Linked DNA regions of Homo sapiens: region 1 is linked to region 2. A link means that fine-mapping ties the variant in region 2 to the expression of a gene that starts in the linked region. Tissue or cell type: whole blood. Region 2 holds a variant in brackets; the other region holds the start of a gene. All regions are shown on one strand. Distances are from middle to middle.

Region 1 (9,437 bases), 40 kb before region 2:
GCCCACCACATGGACACGTGTATTCACCTCCCGGAGCACCTTGTACTCTGAGGGTGTTCCTAGGAATGGCACTAATAGAGTTAGGCATCTGACAGGTGGCACAGGCATGTTTGAAAGGCTCGGAGGTAAGAAGTCAATGCATTTTGTCTTTTACAAGGGGCTTTTACCTGTGTCATCTCATGATTCCACACGACACTCTACAGGGTGGGCAGGACAGGTATCATCATGCCCATTTTTCAGAGGAGAAAACTTAGGCTCAGAAAGGTTGAGTGACTGGCCCAGTGAGGTGGTTCATACAGCTAGACTGTGTCCCTGAGACTTAAACCTGGGTTTGCTTGTTTTGCTACAACTCCTCTTTCCACAACAACACACTGGGATGCTCAAGAGGAATGGAGCTTTGCTTTGGGACTTGGTGACAATGAGACCTGCATACATAAGGAATAGGGTGGCTGTCCCAGGCAGGAACACTTTACAAACAGGTGTACAGTGAGGGAGCATCATGTTGGGCTCCAGGAGAAAGAATTAGACATGTATCACTGAGCAGGGGAGTTCATGTAAGAGTAGTAGAAAATGGCTGGGTGTGATGGCTTCTGCCTGTAATCCCAGCACTTTGGGAGGCTGAGGCAGGTGGATCACCTGAGGTCAGGAGTTCGAGACAAGCCTGAGCAACATGGTGAAACCCTGTCTCTACTAAAAATACAAAAATTAGCCGGGCATGGTGGTGGGCACCTGTAATCTCAGCTAATCGGGAGGCTGAGGCAGGAGAATCTCTTGAACCTGGGAGGCGGAGCTTGCAGTGAGCCAAGATCACGCCACTGCACTCCAGCGTGGGCGACAGAGCGAGACACTGTCTCAAAAAAAAAAAAAAGTAATATAAAATAATGGAATTAAGATTGAACATATTCTGAAAGGTCTCAACACCCAAACTAAGGAATTGGGGCTCTATTAGGCCATGAGGAGCCACTGAAGCTCCCTTCCCAGAGGAAGGACATGGCACAATCCACAGGGCAACAGATAGTTGAGGACAACATGGTGGCTTCCAAAACTTGACTCACCAGGAATGGCTGAAGAAACTGAACGTTTGACCTAGAAAAGTGAAAACTTTTGGGAGGGAAAGAGTATTTGCCAGACTTGGGGGAGAACACAATCATTGTTGGACCAAGGAAAAGACAGCTTTGTTTTATGTGGTCTCTGTGAGTGTCTAGGGGAGCAGTGAAGGTCAGTGGGTGAAAGCTCTAGGGAAATAAATGTTCAGTTCAAATAAGGAAGACTTTTCTGGTCCTTTTAGTGCACTTTAACCCAAGTTTTTTTATTCATTTATGTGTTTGTTTTTTGTAAAGATGAGGTCTTACTATGGTGCCCAGGCTAGTCTCGAATTCCTGGCCTCAAATGATGCTCTCACCTCAGCCTCCCAAAGTGTTGGGATGACAGGGGTGAGCCCCTGCACCTGGCCAAACCTGAGTTTTGTGAGAGCCCACCTGCAAAACACTGGGAGGGAACAGTGACTGGTACAGACAAAATCCCTGCCCTCCTGGAGCTCATATGAAATGGGGGGAAGATAGGCCTTAAACAGAACCATCCTAGAAATTAATGTTATAGCCAGAGCTTCTCAAGTACAAGTATTGGCTGCTTTGAGAAGTGTAAAATCCATCCAGGCACAGTGGCTTACATCTGTAATCCCAGCACTTTGGGAGGCCAAGGCGGGTGGATCACCTGAGGTCAGGAGTTTGAGACCAGCCTGGCCAACATGGTGAAACCCCATCTCTACTAAAAATACAAAAATTAGCCAGGCGTGGTGGCAGGTGCATATAATCTCAGCTAGATGGGAGGCTGAGGCAGAAGAATCGCTTGAACCCAGGAGGCGAAGGTTGCAGTGAGCTGAGACTGTGCCATTGCACTCCAGCCTGGTCAAGAAGAGTGAAACTCCCATCTCAAAAAAAAAAAAAAATCCCCCATCTTAGGAGTTGTCAAGAGACATGTGTCGTGCTGGAAAGGGCTGGATGATTTCTCAGAAGATTCTCTGTCTCTACACATGTTGTGAAATCTTCAGCAACCCTAAATCCCTTAATTAGAGGGAGAGAAAAGGCAAGTGATCAATTGGCTTCTTTTAAAAGCCCATATCTGCATGCTTCGTCTTCACTGCGGTCTGAGGCGCAGAGTGTGGCCAAGCAGGAATTTCATCCTGTGTGTAGCTGGGTGGCTCCACCTATGAATTGAAAATCATTTAGCTGAAATTGTGACACAGCTGCAAATTACAGTCTGCCTGCAGGCTGGGGCTGTGGCTGCGGCCATGGTGCAATCCTCCAGTACCCAACATTAAGTAACTCAGGGCAGACTCTTACTGGGGCCCTACTGCTGGTCAGTTGCAAAGACTACAGGCAGCTTGGCTGGAGGAGCTGTGGAGGGTAGAAGGGAAGCTGGCTGTGTAACACTAGCCTGTCTACAGAGGAGCATCATACCCGCAATGTCACCATGGCTTTCAGCCTCATGACAGCCCTGGAAGGTGTGTGCATCATGCTGATGAGGATACCGAGGGCCAAAGAAGTAAAAGAATTCAGCCAACATCACACAGTGGACAAGTTCCAAAGCCTGGCTTTGAATCCAGGTCTTTTGACTCCAACTCAGGGGTCTTTTTACTACATTACTCTGGGATCAAGACCAGCTACAGACCCTCCTAGAGAAGACCAGGTGGTCAGTGGTCGGACACCACTGTCCAAACCCGTGGGACCCCTTGCAAAACCTGTGGCACTCGGGGCCTTTCAGGCTAATAATATGATTTTTTTTTTTTTTTTGAGACAAGGTCTCACTCTGCCACCCAGGCTGGAGTGCAGTGGTGCGATTTCGGCTCACTGCAACCTCCACCTCCCGGATTCAAGTGATTCTCGTGCCTCAGACTCCCGAGTAGCTAGGATTATAGGCACGCACCATCATGCCTGGCTAATTTTTGTATTTTTAGTACAGACAGGGTTTTACCATGTTCCCCAGGCTGGTCTCAAACTCCTGACCTCAAGGTCCCACCTCGGCCTCCCAAAGTGCTGGGATTACAGAAGCGAGCCACCGCACCCGGCCAGGCTAATAATATAATATTATTAATACTAACTTTTTACACTGGGCTGTGCCCAGCGCCGTGCTGAACCTTTTACACTTGCTGTCTCCTTTGATTCTCAGAGCAATTCCACTCAGTTTTACAGTTGAGGAAACAAAGCCTACGAGAGGTGAGGAGACTTGGCAGAGCCAAGACTGTGTGTCTTCAGGTTCCCTTTTAAGGGGAGCACCACCTCCCTGTCACCTCTGCAGCTTTCCTTGTCAGGTCATTGAAAGGAGTGCCCGGGGTCTGATTTTCCTTGGCTCCCAGGCCAACAGCAACAACCACAATAATAAGCAAAACCCCTCCTTTCCTTTAGACCACACACAGAAGCATACAGAGCACTTTCACACCCATTCATCCCATGCCATTCATGGAGCTGTCCTCCAGCTTTCTGGCAGGATGAACTTGGCGTCATGAGGCCTCGCCCAGAGTCACAGCTAGTGCCCGTGGTAGGAGCCAAGACCACACATGAGTCTCCTCTTGGGTCCAGGCTCTTTCCATGTCCCTCTCTACCCTCTGCTCTTTTCTTAGTCATCTGCCAGAGCCAACAGTGCATCCCATTCTGCCTGGCATGGGTGCACAGCCAGCTGTCTTAGAGCCCCAGAGGCCTGGGAAAGGCTGCCTCATTTAGGCGCTGACCTCCAAGGTTAAGCAAACACAGGCTCTGGAGCCATTTACATATGGGTATGAATCTCGTGGTTGGAGACTCAGGTTAATCTCTCTGTCCCCCATAAGATGGAAATAATAATAGCCCCTTTGCATAGGGTTGCTATGAAGATGAGAAAAGCTAATATATGTAAAGTGTTTAGCCAGTGCCTGCCCACAGTAAACACTAAATCAATTAGTTATTATTAGTAAGCACTAAATCGGTAGTTATGATTCCCATCTTTACAGTGATATTGATTCACTTATTCAAGAATGTGCATGTTCCAGCCACGTGTCAAGCCCTGTGCTAGATTCTGAGAAGAAGATTTGAATGATATGCAACCTGTACCTTCAAGGAGCTCAGTCTGGAGATGGGGACATATATAAACAGATAGTTCCAGTGCAGTGGATACATACGGTAATAGAGGTTCTAAGATGTACAAAAGGCTGTAGGGGCCTAAAGGACGGAGAAAGGACACTGATTTCTCTTTTTCAATTTTCCAAGCCACCTGCCTATTCCGTCTTCTCTTTCTCGAGATCAAACATTCTCACTTCTCTCTAAAGACCCAACCTTGTCATCATGGTGCTCAATCTTCCTTCCACACTGTGATGCTGGGGAAAGCCTTGGGGCATTTCTGTTCTCTCGTGAATCCTTGAAGCCTCACTTTAAAAAATATATACTCACTCCTTTGTCCATCGTAAACCTTGATATTTGTAAATATCGATAATAGGAACTTTGAAAAAACATACGCCCTTAGAAACAAGCAAGCAAACAAAAACACGTAGAATGTCAGAGCTTCTCCCCACTCCACACCCTTTCTTTAAACTGATGTCAAGGTGGGCCCAGTGAGGGTCAGTGACGGAACCTGCAGTCTGAGAAAGACATGGCAGAAGCATAAGGTTAGAGGCTGTTCCTGCTGCCTCATTAAAAACAACAATTTTCCCCCAAATCTGGACTGAAACTGACATTCAACGCCAAGTGTGATCTCAGTTTAACCTGCCCTGGTAGATATGCATACACTTCCCATGCGCACCATCTCATGTGATCGTGTCCACAGCTTTGTGAGTTGAGAGGGGTGGGAGTGATTATCCCCAACCACAAGCAAGGCTTCCGGGCTTCAAGGGTTGGAGACCACCCAGGGCTCGGCCAGCATCAGAACCAACGGCTTCTAATTCCAAATCAAATGATGGTTTATGCCACACTACAACCCTAAACAAATGAACTGTGATGTGTCTCACTTCCCTGTGCAAGTGGAAGATGCTAATACATGTGTATCATGAGAAAGGACCTCACAATTTTCTTCTTCTGGGTTCTGCTGAGACGTTTCTTTGATTCAGAGAGAACTTCCCAGGATCAGCAAGAAAAGCATGTCATCATTTCCTAAACCCTACAATCCAGGAAATAGTCCATCATTTTATAAAATTATAAAAGCGAACTATTTGAGTTTCTTTATTATCTGCCCCCTTCTCCCCAAGCTGGTCTTGTACAAACATGATGCACGTCCATTGGGTGACAAGTCTGTCGTAAGTGAAACGTTTACAGGCACTACAGGAATGACCTGGTGCCTCGCCCACTTCATTAGAATTCTAATTGGGGTGTGTAGGAGAGGATTCTATAAATGGTAAGGCAATCCTTGGCAGCCTGTCTGTCAGCACTGTCCGTGCCATTCCCAGAGGAGCCTGAGAAGAGGCAGAGGAAGGCGAAACATGGCTGGTGAGTGCATGGCATCTTCTCCATCAGGTCCTTGCCAGAAGCCTGTGCTTCCCCTGGGCCAGCCTGCCAAGCCAGAGTGTCCGGCCAGGACAGCTGCCTGCCTTGGGGGCTCTGAAGGCCAGACTTCCTATTTTAGGGTGCTAGCCAGAGGCGGCTCTTTCTCAGTGGTGGTTGGGTCCCTCTAGCATATTCTTGGGGTAGAACATCATTGGAATGTAGCTCTGAATAATGGGCAGGGTGTTCAGTGCAGCTGGACATCGCATCTCCTTAGGCAGAGGACAAGCTTTGCCTTGTTTGTGTTTGCGTTTCTTTTACACATCCGTCGCCACCCGTAAAGCCAAAGCAGACAGGACTCGGGTCTCGTGTTTCTCAGTGTAGCTGTATCCAGCTGTCAGCAGTGTCAGCAAAGAAGCACATCTCAGAACTACCAGGGAGTGAGAGTGGTAACATGTAAGTTGATTTGAAAGAAACCATTGTTTATTTCAAATCAACTTACTTAGGAGCATTAGGAATGCTCCTAAGTAAGCTACACATCAGAAGCATCAGACAGGCTCTGTGTAAGTGACTTGATGAGCTGAAGCCTCCCCGTAGCAGGAGCAGGTGTGCCACAAGATGTCCTGGTCCACAGGAGAGCACCAGGGAACAGGGGTTACAAAGAACAACAGGAAGTGCAGGTTCCCCCACTCTATGCTTACTGTCGAGGATATGGGCCTTTGTTAATCAGCACCCCTGCTAAGCAGCATGCTAATTATTATCTGTCTTGTGTGCTCAGCCTAGTAGGTTGACAGGGACGCCAAATCCAAACAAGATATGAGTCAAACTTGTAAAATATTGTGAATGGCGATTAGGGCTGCTGGAAGATTGGCCAAAGACATCACTGAGCCAAATGCAACAGGCAAATGCTGGCTACTTCAGAAGCCACAAAAACTGGGACAGGTGATTGCACATTAGGCCCCCTCCCCTGTCTCCCATTCCTTGCTGTAATGTACAGCATGGCTGGGATGCTAAGAAGAGGAGCTCTGGACCCTACACACTGCAGCAAGAGGGGAGGTCAGATGTCATCTAGCCCATCTCCCTCCCTCCAGGAGGTGGCTGAGGCCCAGGAAGGGGTGGAACCTTACACACAGTGAATCCATCGCAGAGCCAGCTAGGTCTCAGCAGTGCCCTTTCCACCATGTCCTGCTGCCAGAGCTGAGCTCCTACATAAGTGCACATAACATCTGGAACATAAAAAAGCAATTCTGAACCTGGCTTCTCATTTGAGCTTTGTGACCAACTGCTTGTGTGTTCTCTGCCACCCCTGAGCCTCAAGTTTTCAAGATGAAAGCTTTGAAATGAATGCGTTTTGAGGTTCCTTCCAGTACCGACTTTTCTTTCTCCACAAAAAGAAACCAGAGCCAGGGAGTGGACAGGCACGTGCCCAGCCCCCAGGAATGTGCACCTCCCATCCCTGTGCAGGACCTCCCGTGGACTCTCAGGAATGGCCTGCCCGCTGTGAGGCATGATTAAATGTCTCTGTTAACAACCAGAGATGTTCTAAAGTCACAACAGAATGAGGCTGGTGGGGAGAAAATCAATTTTGAAAAGGTGGTGGAGAGACAGGCGAATACATTCAGTCCCTTAAATTTGTCCCACTTGCAGTTCCCAGCTCAGCTCCGAGTCACTCAGCCAGGAAGTTCCCAATCAGTGTTTCTTGGATGAATGAATTTATTCACTGAACACCTAAGGGAGAAGAGCTGTGCCAGGTGCAGTGGGAAATATGGAGGTGAATGAGATGTGGTTCTGTCCTCGGTAGCTTTTAGTCTGATATTTTTTGGTACCACCGGTTTTTTAGGTGAGCAGCATGCAAGGCAGACTGTTATTAAGCTGCATGACAAATACAAAACAAGTGCTACGGGGACCAACAAGAGAAGGAGATTAGTCTTGTCTGGAATTTGGGATAGGGAAGACTCTGAAAAATGGTCACAGACAATGAGTTGGACTTGGTCTGGAGAGGTTTTGCAGGGCAGAGGGAACAGGAAAATAAATGTCAGTGTGAGCAGGTGTGACCCAGGGGACTATCGGGATGACAGGTGTGCTGCTTTGAGAGGACTCTGTGTCCAGCTCCTAATTTAAGGTTCTTGTTGCAATCAGAAGGGGTTCCATTATTCCACCCCTTGGTGGAGAAGGCAGCCTGGGCTGTGGCTGGAAATGAAGGTAGTGGAGGAAGGCCTGGCAGTGATCCGCACCAAGTGGCCTGGCATCCCCAGAGTGGGTGGGAGAGCAGTTTGTGAGCACAGAGGAGGGCCCCAGTGTGGAGGGGAGGCAAGATTCCCCATCCCCAAAGCCACTTGGAAGCCCTGGGTTAGTGGCAGAGTTCTCAGGGTACACACCTGAACCACAGGCTTCTGCCTGCAAATGACCAGAACCTCTGTTTTGGGGACTAATGGCTCTGTCCCTCTGGGGCAGTGAGCTTTCTTGCCAACTACTTTTCCAGGCAGAGCACTGGCCTTGGCTTCAGGGACTTCCCATCTCAAGGCCTCATTTCCTCCACCCCCAAAGGACCTGTACCATTCCCAGCGTCTGGGTCTACCACCAAACCGTTCTCCTTGGAGCTGGGACACCAGTCGCCCCTCCTCCCATGGAAGCGGTCAGGAATTGCTCTTGGGTTCTGGCCTCCTTCTCTTCTGTAAATCTTCTAGGTGCTTCCTGGACCCTCCTCATATTTTTGTGTCTGGCACTGGGACCAAGGCAATATCTACTCTCTCTCTCTCTGAAAAGGAGATGGCCCCTCTGGGCTCAGAGTCTTGTGACTCCAGCTGCTCATTGTTTGAAATGAGGACCAGCTGCCTCCTGTCTGCCCGGCTCCATGGCCTTCTTCCACCTGGGACAGCGGCTACTCCCTGTTCCTTAGAGACAGCCCATGAGCAGCTTCATTCCACCGGGAATGACAGCTGCCCGTATTTCAGCGTTTGTTCCTGTAGGATTCCTTACAGGATAGCTGATGGGTTAAGAGTGCAGGTTCAGAGGTGCTCTCTGGATCAAGGCTCCACTCTGCCCCTTACGAGAAGAGTGGTCTTGGGCAGGTCACTTAACTTGTGTGTCTCAGTTTCCTCATCTCCAAAATGGGGTTATTGCAGTATCCACCTCATGGGTGCTTACGATTACCTGGAAATTTTTTCATGAGCCTGTTTTCTCCTTGTCTTGGGGGGACTTAAGAAAAACCCTATGAGAGGAATTACATTTTCTAATCAGGGGCGATTCCCAGGGGACCCTCTCCATTAAGCGCCTCAGCACAAGTCCTCCCCACTCCCGCTTCATCCATTCCCAAGTCCAAAGTCCTCATGCCTGAGCACTCCCCTTGTTCACCTCAAGTAACTTCATGCGGCTCCACCCCGCAGGGCTGTCTCTGCAGATGGAGCAATCATTCTCCTCCCCAGGGCCCACGTGCCAGGCTGGGGTGTGTGCTGAAGTTAGGAAATCTCGCTTAGCAGTGGAGGGCACAAGGCCCTAGGATCTTGGTAGGAGCTGAGAGATGGGAGTCAGAAGGAGTCAGCCTTCCCCTCCCTCAGCCTGATTTTCCTTATTTGTAAAAAGAGGACAGCGACTCCTCCCCTGCCTCCTTCCTATAGCTGCCGGGTGGCTCTGGTCAGGTAATTTATGTGAAGGAGCTTTTATAAGTGTAGATGATAAACGGGCCTAAGGTAGTGAGGTCTCAGTCCCTGCTGCACATTAGAATCACCAGGAAAGCTTTAAAGAAAATGCTGGCCGGGTGCAATGGCTCACGCCTGTAATCCCAGCACATTGGGAGGTCAAGGCGGGTAGATTATCTGAGGTCAGGAGTTCGAGACCAGCCTGGCCAATACGACAAAATCTCATCTACTAAAAATACAAAAATTAGTGGGACATGCTGGCACGCACTTGTAGTCCCAGCTACTTGGGAGGCTGAGGTTACAGTGAGGCAAGAGAACTGCTTGAACCCAGGAGGCAGGGGTTGCAGTGAGCTGAGAT
Region 2 (8,000 bases):
TTAAGTCAGTTCTAAATCATCACCTTGCTTTTTGGCTTATGAATGTATTCTAATCTTTTTCAGCTCAGTTCTTATGATTTATTTTGAAATTATCTGTTTTTTAAGTCTCACAAAAGACATTTTATCAGAAAAAAATGGAATCTAACCTAATTAACGCAAGCAAATGATCAAGCCACATAGTAATTGTGTGCAGGTGTGATAAAGCTTTTCTACAGATTTTGGGAAATTTAGAGCTGATTAGAAAAGCGCCAGAGACCAACTGGTCTGTGAGTCTCCGGTTAAGACAGGCGAGCTGGAGACCTGTGAAAGTCGAATGCCTGCTAGGGCAGCAATGGAGCCAGCACCAGTCCTAGGCCGCCTGTCCAGGCAGGGTACTGTCCTTTGCCCAGGTTGCCATCACATCCCTGGCATGTTTCTGTCTTTTCCCACCACACAGGCTCTGACCAGGAAAGACAAGTGTTCCAAAAGGCTTTGGGGAAACTTAAACCCAACACGCCATTTGCCGCGACGTCTTCAATGGGTTTGGAAACAGAGGAACAGGAGCCCAGCATCATCGGGAAGCTGAAGGTCGCTGGCATGCTGGCAGTAGGCAAAGAAGTCAACCTGGTCCTACTGCTCAAAAACCTGAGCAGGGATACGAAGACAGTGACAGTGAACATGACAGCCTGGACCATCATCTACAACGGCACGCTTGTACATGAAGTGTGGAAGGACTCTGCCACAATGTCCCTGGACCCTGAGGAAGGTAACGCATCCCGCAGTTGGAGGAGATCCACGAATCCGAGGTAGCCAATGGCCTTCTGGGGCTGCAGGGTGTCTGCTGGGCTCCAGGTTAGTCAGCTACGAATGGAGCAGCCAGCGGCCCCTGTGGTTAAGCCATGTATTAATGCTTTGGAAGTTTCTGTCTCTATGAACAGAGTGATGCCAACCAAATGTCAGGGTGGTGCCAACCAAAATCCTTTTACGCCCCAAGGGAGGAAGGAGGGAGGCTTTGGCAGTTCATAGCTATGGCACAATATCCCTTACAAGTATATACCACCTCACACAGTTTGACCGTCTAAAAAAAGGCAGATTTTCAGTGTCCATCTTATAGAAGCAGAAAGTGAGGCTGGGAGAGATTTGTGACTTGCTTCGGAGATAAAGTATCATAGATAGTAGTGGTAGTGCTGAGTCTTGGTCCTAGGTTTCCTGATACTGAGTCCAGAGCCACCCCCTGTTTTCTATGTTGTATTGTTCTTACCCACCTCACCCCCACTCCCACAACAAATCGCTTTTCAAATTTGACCTCAGGAGGGTGGCAATGACCACGGGACCCTAAACCTTGGCCCATGGCCCTCCCACAGCTGCCACGGGGTGGGTGGACCTTCTGGAATCCTGACAACAGTGACAGGTTTTCTTAGAAGTCTGAGCGTTTGGGAGGAACAGTGACTCCTTGCCCTTGGGTAGCAGGGATGGGAAGGGAACAAGGTGGAGCAGATAAAGGTTGTGCTGTGGAAGGATTAGAATGCAGGTGTGCCCACATTGGTAAAATCCTTCAAGCTGTCATGAAAAGTTTGGACTTACAAGCCGGATTAACAGGGCAGGGTGGTTATTTGCTTCACATAAGGAACTAATAGAAACTGATTAATTATACTGCCCATCTTGAAAGAATTCTGTCTCCAGAGAAACTGAGAGGTGTCACACCTGTCAGAAAGAAGCATCCCCTAGCAATCTGTCTTCTGGCAGAATTTTAGCAGAAATCTTTTCAATATATGAAGCAACTGCCTGGCTGTTATTGACCTTAGAAACTCAAAGAAAGGGCTTTTTTTGTTTGTTTGTTTGTTTTTGTTTATTTGTTTTGTTTTTAGACAGGATCTTGCTCTGTCTGCCAGGCTGAAGTGATCATAGCTCACTGCAGCCTCAAACTCTGGGCTCAAGCAATCCTCCTGCCTCAGCCCCCCAAGTAGCTGTAGTCCCAAGTAACTAGGACTACAGGCATGCCATTATGCCCAGCTAACTTTTAAAGTTTTTTGTAGAGATAGGGTCTCACTATGTTGCCCAGGCTAGTCTCAAACTCCTGGCCTCAAGCAATTTTCCCGCCTTGGCTTCCCAAAGTGCTGGGATTACAGGCATAAGCCACCATGCCTGGCCAAAAGAGCTAATTTTGGAAATCAAAAAAAATTCACAGGATGGAAATAGTTAAAAAAAAACCGTTTTGCAGAATGGAATGGAAAAGAGAGAGAAGGCAGGTGTAGTGGTCTTAGAGTCTGGTCGTCTGCCAAGTAGTTGCTAGATGACCCTGGTTAAGTCTCCCTCCCTTTCTGAACCTCGGAGGTCACTGACGGTGAGGGTTGGACCAGCTGATGCAAGGGCCTGTCCTCTCCACATTTGGGGCAGGGATGGCAAATTCCTTCAGTGCTAAAAGCAGAGGCAGCTTCCTCCTCACAGTCTTACCTACAAGAGTATGTAATACTGTGGGTGCTGGGGCATCCCCAGGCCACCCAGCATGACAGCCTGAGGGAAGGGAGCACCTAAGCCCATCAGGGTAGGGAAAGGGCCCCGCGGCCCACAGGGTCAGAAGAGAGGACTTAAAGCGTGGGGAAGGAGCCGGATGCATGGAGAGAAGCCAGGGGAGGCATTTCCATCTGGGGGAACCATGTGAGTCAAAATATGGGGGCGAAAAGGTGCCTGTTTTGTCTGCAGAACAAGAAGTGTGGAAGGTTCTTTTAAGGGACAGGTGATGCAGGGCCAGGTTGAGGGGTCTGAACTTTATCTAAGGCAATGAGGAGCCACGGAAGATTTTTGAAGTCACATGTGACACAGAAGAAGAGTGATTTAGAAAACAAAACAGAACAAAACGAAAAACAGCTTTCCAAAGCTTTGTCTGGCTGGTGTGTGGATGATTTAGAAGAACTAGAGACCAGACCAGAGGAATGAAGGGGATGCTGTGGCAGTAGAACCCCAGGCTATTAGATGACGGGGAGGATCCTAAGCGTTTGTTTAGCCAATACCCTGGCTTCCCTTCCTACCTATTATTGTGTTACTGTCATGATTGCTACTGTTGTTGGCAATCAGGTGGCATTTGTATTCTTCCACTGCCCCTCAGAAGGACACTTGTGGCTGGGAGCAGTGCTCACGCCTGTAATCCCAACACTTTGGGAGGCCAAGGCGGGAGGATCCCTTGAGTCCAGGAGTTTGAGACCAGCCTGGACAACATAGAGAGACCCCATCTCTACAAATAATTTAAAAAATTTTAAAAAAAAAGGACACTTGCCCTCCAACATTTTTCGGAGTCGGGAGGAAGCAGCGGTATCTTTAGCCCCTGTGAGCCCATCCTCCTGGGAATCTGCCCAGCCAGAGAGAGTCCTGGGGCCTCTTTGCCCCCTGCTCTGGAGCCCACCCTGACCGGGGGACGCTTCCCACAGGACCTGGCCCAAGGAGGGCTCAGTCAAGCCCGGGGCTGCAGATCCTCCCACCAGCTCACCCTGCCTTGGCTTGGCATCTGTTCTGAGGAAGGTTCAGAAGCCATCCCCACTCCCCCTCACTCGGATCCCCTGGCTTCTCCTTCCAGAGGCAGAACATCCCATAAAGATCTCGTACGCTCAGTATGAGAAGTACCTGAAGTCAGACAACATGATCCGGATCACAGCGGTGTGCAAGGTCCCAGATGAGTCTGAGGTGGTGGTGGAGCGGGACATCATCCTGGACAACCCCACCTTGACCCTGGAGGTAATGGGG[C/T]TCCCCATCCTGTGGGAAGGGGTTCTGCCCCCAGCCAGCCCAGCTCCCAGGAGCCCCACTGTCCCTGTGAGCCACAGCTCTCCCAGAGGGCAAAGGAGAGTTTTTTCTTGCTGGGAGGGGCAGAGAACTGGGCCCAGCTTCGGTCCAGCCTCTGCCAAATAGCCAAGAGCTCCCACTCAGGCCCGTGTTCCTGCTCCCTGTCTGGTGAGATAAACGCGTGCATTTGCCTGGCTGCTTCTCAGATTCTAGTTCAGAACCACTGGGGGCATCAGCTGAGGAGGGGCCTGGGGGACTCTTTTCAGCTCATTCCCTTCTCACTCAGCTACTGAGCATTTGCTGTGTTCTGGGCCATGCCAGGCTTGAGATCTGCTGTGTTCTGGGCCATGCCAGGCTTGAGAATCACAGACAGGCACAGGTGTAGGTCTCACACACAGCCAGCTGATGTGCCAGGGCCACAGCCCAGCCCTCTGTCATGGACAGATCAGAAATAGGCCTGACCCACAGCATCTCTCCCCTGTCTAGACCCTGGAGTTACAGAATTGTGGACTCTTAGGAGCCTAGTCACATGCTCCTGTACTCTCATTTCACACAAGTAAACCAAGGCCCAGAGAGAAGGGAACAGCTGGCCACCGCCAGAGTCAAGGCTAGGCCTCAGAACCTGGGACTCCCAGCCCATGCCCCTCCAAGGCGTCCTGGTACATCACCAGCCAGCAACAGCATCTTCAAAGTGGCTGAGAACAAAGACCCCTCTTTCTCTGCTCATAGGGCTTCCTTTACTTTGCAGCATTCACTCCCAGGCTCCTTCTCAGGAGCCCAGGAAGGTGGGGCTTGCAGGTCTGTGGGAGGCCCCTCGTGCCACTCTGTGTCTTCCTCAGCACTGGTAGGAGCACCTGTGCGGACTCCAAGCCTGTCCCTCACCCTGTAGCCCCTGTGCCTGATCCCCACAGCCCAGGGTGAAGGGTGCTGGAACCAGGGAGTATAGGTCTGAAGGGTAAAAGGCTGGACAAGGACAGGCAGACAAACGGACAGAGAACATGAGGTTTTCCCTTGGGGCCCAATCAAGAGCCTCATGGGCCAGGCCCTGCCCTCTCTCATCTGCTGTACCCACCGTCTGCCCCAGTTGTCTAGATAGAAATTGCCTTTCCCTGTACAATCACAATGCCACAGGTTTCCCAAGCCCCAGAAACCAGGAAGAGCCAGATAATCATGGCTGCCCTGGCCCGCCCCTCCTTAAGCTGTAAGCTGGCTGCAGGCGTTCCTGACCTCAGAAAGGGCAGGGGGATCTAGGATGCTGGCTCTGATGCCGGGCCTGGTTCTCCCACATAGCTGGCCTGCAATTGCACCCTTTTACTGTCCTGGTTAGTTTGGACTGTGCTTCAGGATGGGGGAGTTGGTCCCCTACCTTAGGGGCTAGAGAGTCAGTGACTGGGCAGCCAGTCTGGGGGCTGAGAAGGGCAGTCGTTCAGGCCTTGGGCCATGTAACCAAATGGATCTGGCATTGTATCTAAACCCCTCCATTGATCAGTGGTGACACTGAGCAGGTCCCTTAATCTGAGTCTCAGTTGCTCCAACTCTGTCACTGGGACAATAAATTACTTCCCTTGCAGAGTGTCATTTCCTCAGGGAAGCCTTTCCTGAGCTCCCAAATTAGGCTCCCAAATTCATCTCAATTATACACCCTCAGAACATTCTGTCCTTTTCCTTCAAGGCATTTGTCCCAGCTGGAATATTATCCTTCTTTGTGCAATTATTTGGTTGTGAATCCCTACCCAACCGTAAACTCCATGAGGGCAGGCATTACCTCTGTTCTGAGTTCATCACTGTCTCCCTTAGCACAATGTCTTAGTGGATAGCCACTATTTGTAAAAGAGAAATAGCCCCTTGCTCGGGGCATGACTGGAACAGATCCCCTTGGCTCTGGACTTGCATTCTTCCCTGCACAGGAAAGTCAGTCCAGGCTTGTGCCCTGCGTGTGACAGCCTCTCCTGCTTCACAAGACATTTCTGAGAAACACTCCCCATCTCTCTAGACATGGTGGACAGCAGAGTGCCCATTCCAACTCCTGAGGCTAGAAAATGATACTGGGTGGCTGCCAGTTCAGTTATGAGAACATTCTGTACTAAAGTGATCAGTGTTTAAAAGAACTTAGTTTTTGGCCAGGCGCGGTGGCTCACTCTTGCAATCCCAGCACTTTGGGAAGCCGAGGCAGGTGGAGCACCTGAGGTCAGGAGTTCAAGACCAGCCTGGCCAACATGGTGAAACCCCGTCTCTACTAAAAATAGAAAAAATTAGCCAGGCATGGTGGCGGGCACCTATAATCCCAGCTACTTGGGAGGCTGAGGCAGGAGAATTGCTTGAACCCGAGAGGCAGCGGTTGCAGTGAGCCGAGATCACACCACTGCACTCCAGCCTGGCTGACAGAGTGAGACTCCGTCAAAAAAAAAAAAAATTAGTGTTTTTCCCCAGTGTATTCCCCATTATGTTCCCTTATCCAATGTCCTCAAACCTTCTTCCAGCATTATCTTTTATTCAACACTTTTGCTATACATCTTCCAGATTTCCATGGCAAGTCTACTTATCTTTAAGATACTACAATATCTTTAGAAAGGAAATCAGAATATATAAGGCTAGAAATGTGCCATCACTGACTCTTTTTAAAAATTTAATCTTTTTAAATGACTCCTGATCTTCCTTCTTCGAGGCAAGTTCTTTCCTCCACCTAAGCCTTCACCTAATCGAGACATTCTTGTCTCTATTGAACGGATCAATGCCTAGCTCACTCAGAGCAGGGCACCGATTTTTAAACTGGAGAAGGTGATCTGTATGAAAAGATAATAATTTGGGTAAAACCCCATTATCTAACCTGGTACTGACTGGCAATTAGCACTGAGGACCTTAGACCACAAAACCAGGCCAAAAACAATCTGAACATTGTTTCCAAAGGGTGATGTCCTCCCAATTGATCCATCATCTGTGACAAGCAAACTCAGGTTTTTAGTGGCTTTTATCCTTTCCTCTGGGTACATTTACAGAGTTGGGTCAATAGGAGAGAGTGGTAAGCGGCATTAAAAAAAGAAAAAAAAGCATGGAAATCTCAAATTAAATATCACCATGAAAAATGTGGCAACATCTGTATAGCTTTCTTATAACCCAATAGCATAAAATTATGCTGCACTCTTCAAATTATGTCATACACTTAAATGAGTTTCATGGAAGAAATGAAAATATAGACCATGATGTGTAAAATGCTTCAATTACTCACAAATTACTGGGAGGTATTGCAGACCTATCAGAAACAGCAAAGGCTTTAGATCCAGCTGGGCTCTGCTGTTTCCTTGTGTGTGAATGTTCCAGGTTATTGAATCAGCCTGAACCTCAGCTCTGTCACTGTAAAATGGTTGCTCTGAGGATTAGTGACAAGAAAAACAAAACACAGCAACAACAAAACCCAGCAACCTCCGGTCATCCTCAAAAGAAGAAGAAATCCAATAGCCATAAAATGTCCATTTCTATGTCCAAAATGCTTTCTTCCCCATCCTTGATCTCATTTGACCCCTTCTGGGAGGGAAGAGATGATTGTCCTTCTTTACCAGATGAGGAAGTTGAGGCGCAAAGAGATGACTTGTCTGCCCAGAATGAATTACGGCTGTTTCTTGGCAGAAACACAACAGCTTTCATCTTTTGGTCTGAATAAATAGTCCAAATTGCTTTTCTGACCCCAAACCCAGCCTTCATCTGTTCTGATCACTGAGCAAGGACCGTGTGGTATTAGAGCTCCGCTCAGACTATAAATGGTGCACAGGGAACCTCTGGGCTCTAGAAGTTTAGAAGGACATTGGTAGACTGGGGTGTCAGCAGAGGAGAGTAGCCTGGGTTGAGCTGGGGGGACCCAACCCCTGGAAAAAGAGTTAAGGGAGCTACAGTGTGAGCCAGGGTGTGAGCAGCTGTGGGGCCTGGGGCTGCCCTTTTCAACACCTGTGGGGCCTCCCAGAGACGGAGGTTCAAGCTTTAAGGGAAGAAACAGGACCCATAAGCAGGAAAGCCAAGGAAAGTAATATTAAACCCAGCAAGTGGCTGGGCACAGTGACTTACATCTGTAATCCCAGTGCTTTGGGAGGCCAAGGCAGGAAGATCACTTGAGGCCAGGAGTTCGAGGCCAGCCTGGGCAACACAGCAAGACCCTGTCCTTGCAAAAAATAAATTCAGCATGAAAAATGTCCTGACCCTCACAGAGCCCACAGTGGGGTTGGGCTGTCCTGGGAAGCAGGGTCTGAACTGGAGTC

Evidence for each region. PIP is the estimated chance that this variant, and not a neighbour inherited with it, causes the effect.
Region 1: TGM3 starts here. The variant in region 2 is fine-mapped to the expression of TGM3 in whole blood (TOPMed, PIP above 0.99).

The regions. Positions count from the first base shown.
Region 1 is chr20:2,290,624-2,300,060 of GRCh38, forward strand. It overlaps TGM3 (transglutaminase 3), which reads left to right and starts at 5,378. Exons shown (of 13, transcript NM_003245.4): 1 at 5,378-5,447. The coding sequence starts at 5,441. LOC105372503 (a long non-coding RNA gene) reads right to left here. Exons shown (of 3, transcript XR_937203.3): 2 at 6,569-6,667; 3 at 5,198-5,871. RefSeq lists enhancers at 6,082-6,615, 6,616-7,148.
Region 2 is chr20:2,331,566-2,339,565 of GRCh38, forward strand. It overlaps TGM3 (transglutaminase 3), which reads left to right. Exons shown (of 13, transcript NM_003245.4): 10 at 437-745; 11 at 3,551-3,708. Among named protein-coding and RNA genes, the nearest start is that of TGM3, 40 kb to the left of the region's middle. The variant C/T (reference allele first, on the strand shown) is at 3,718.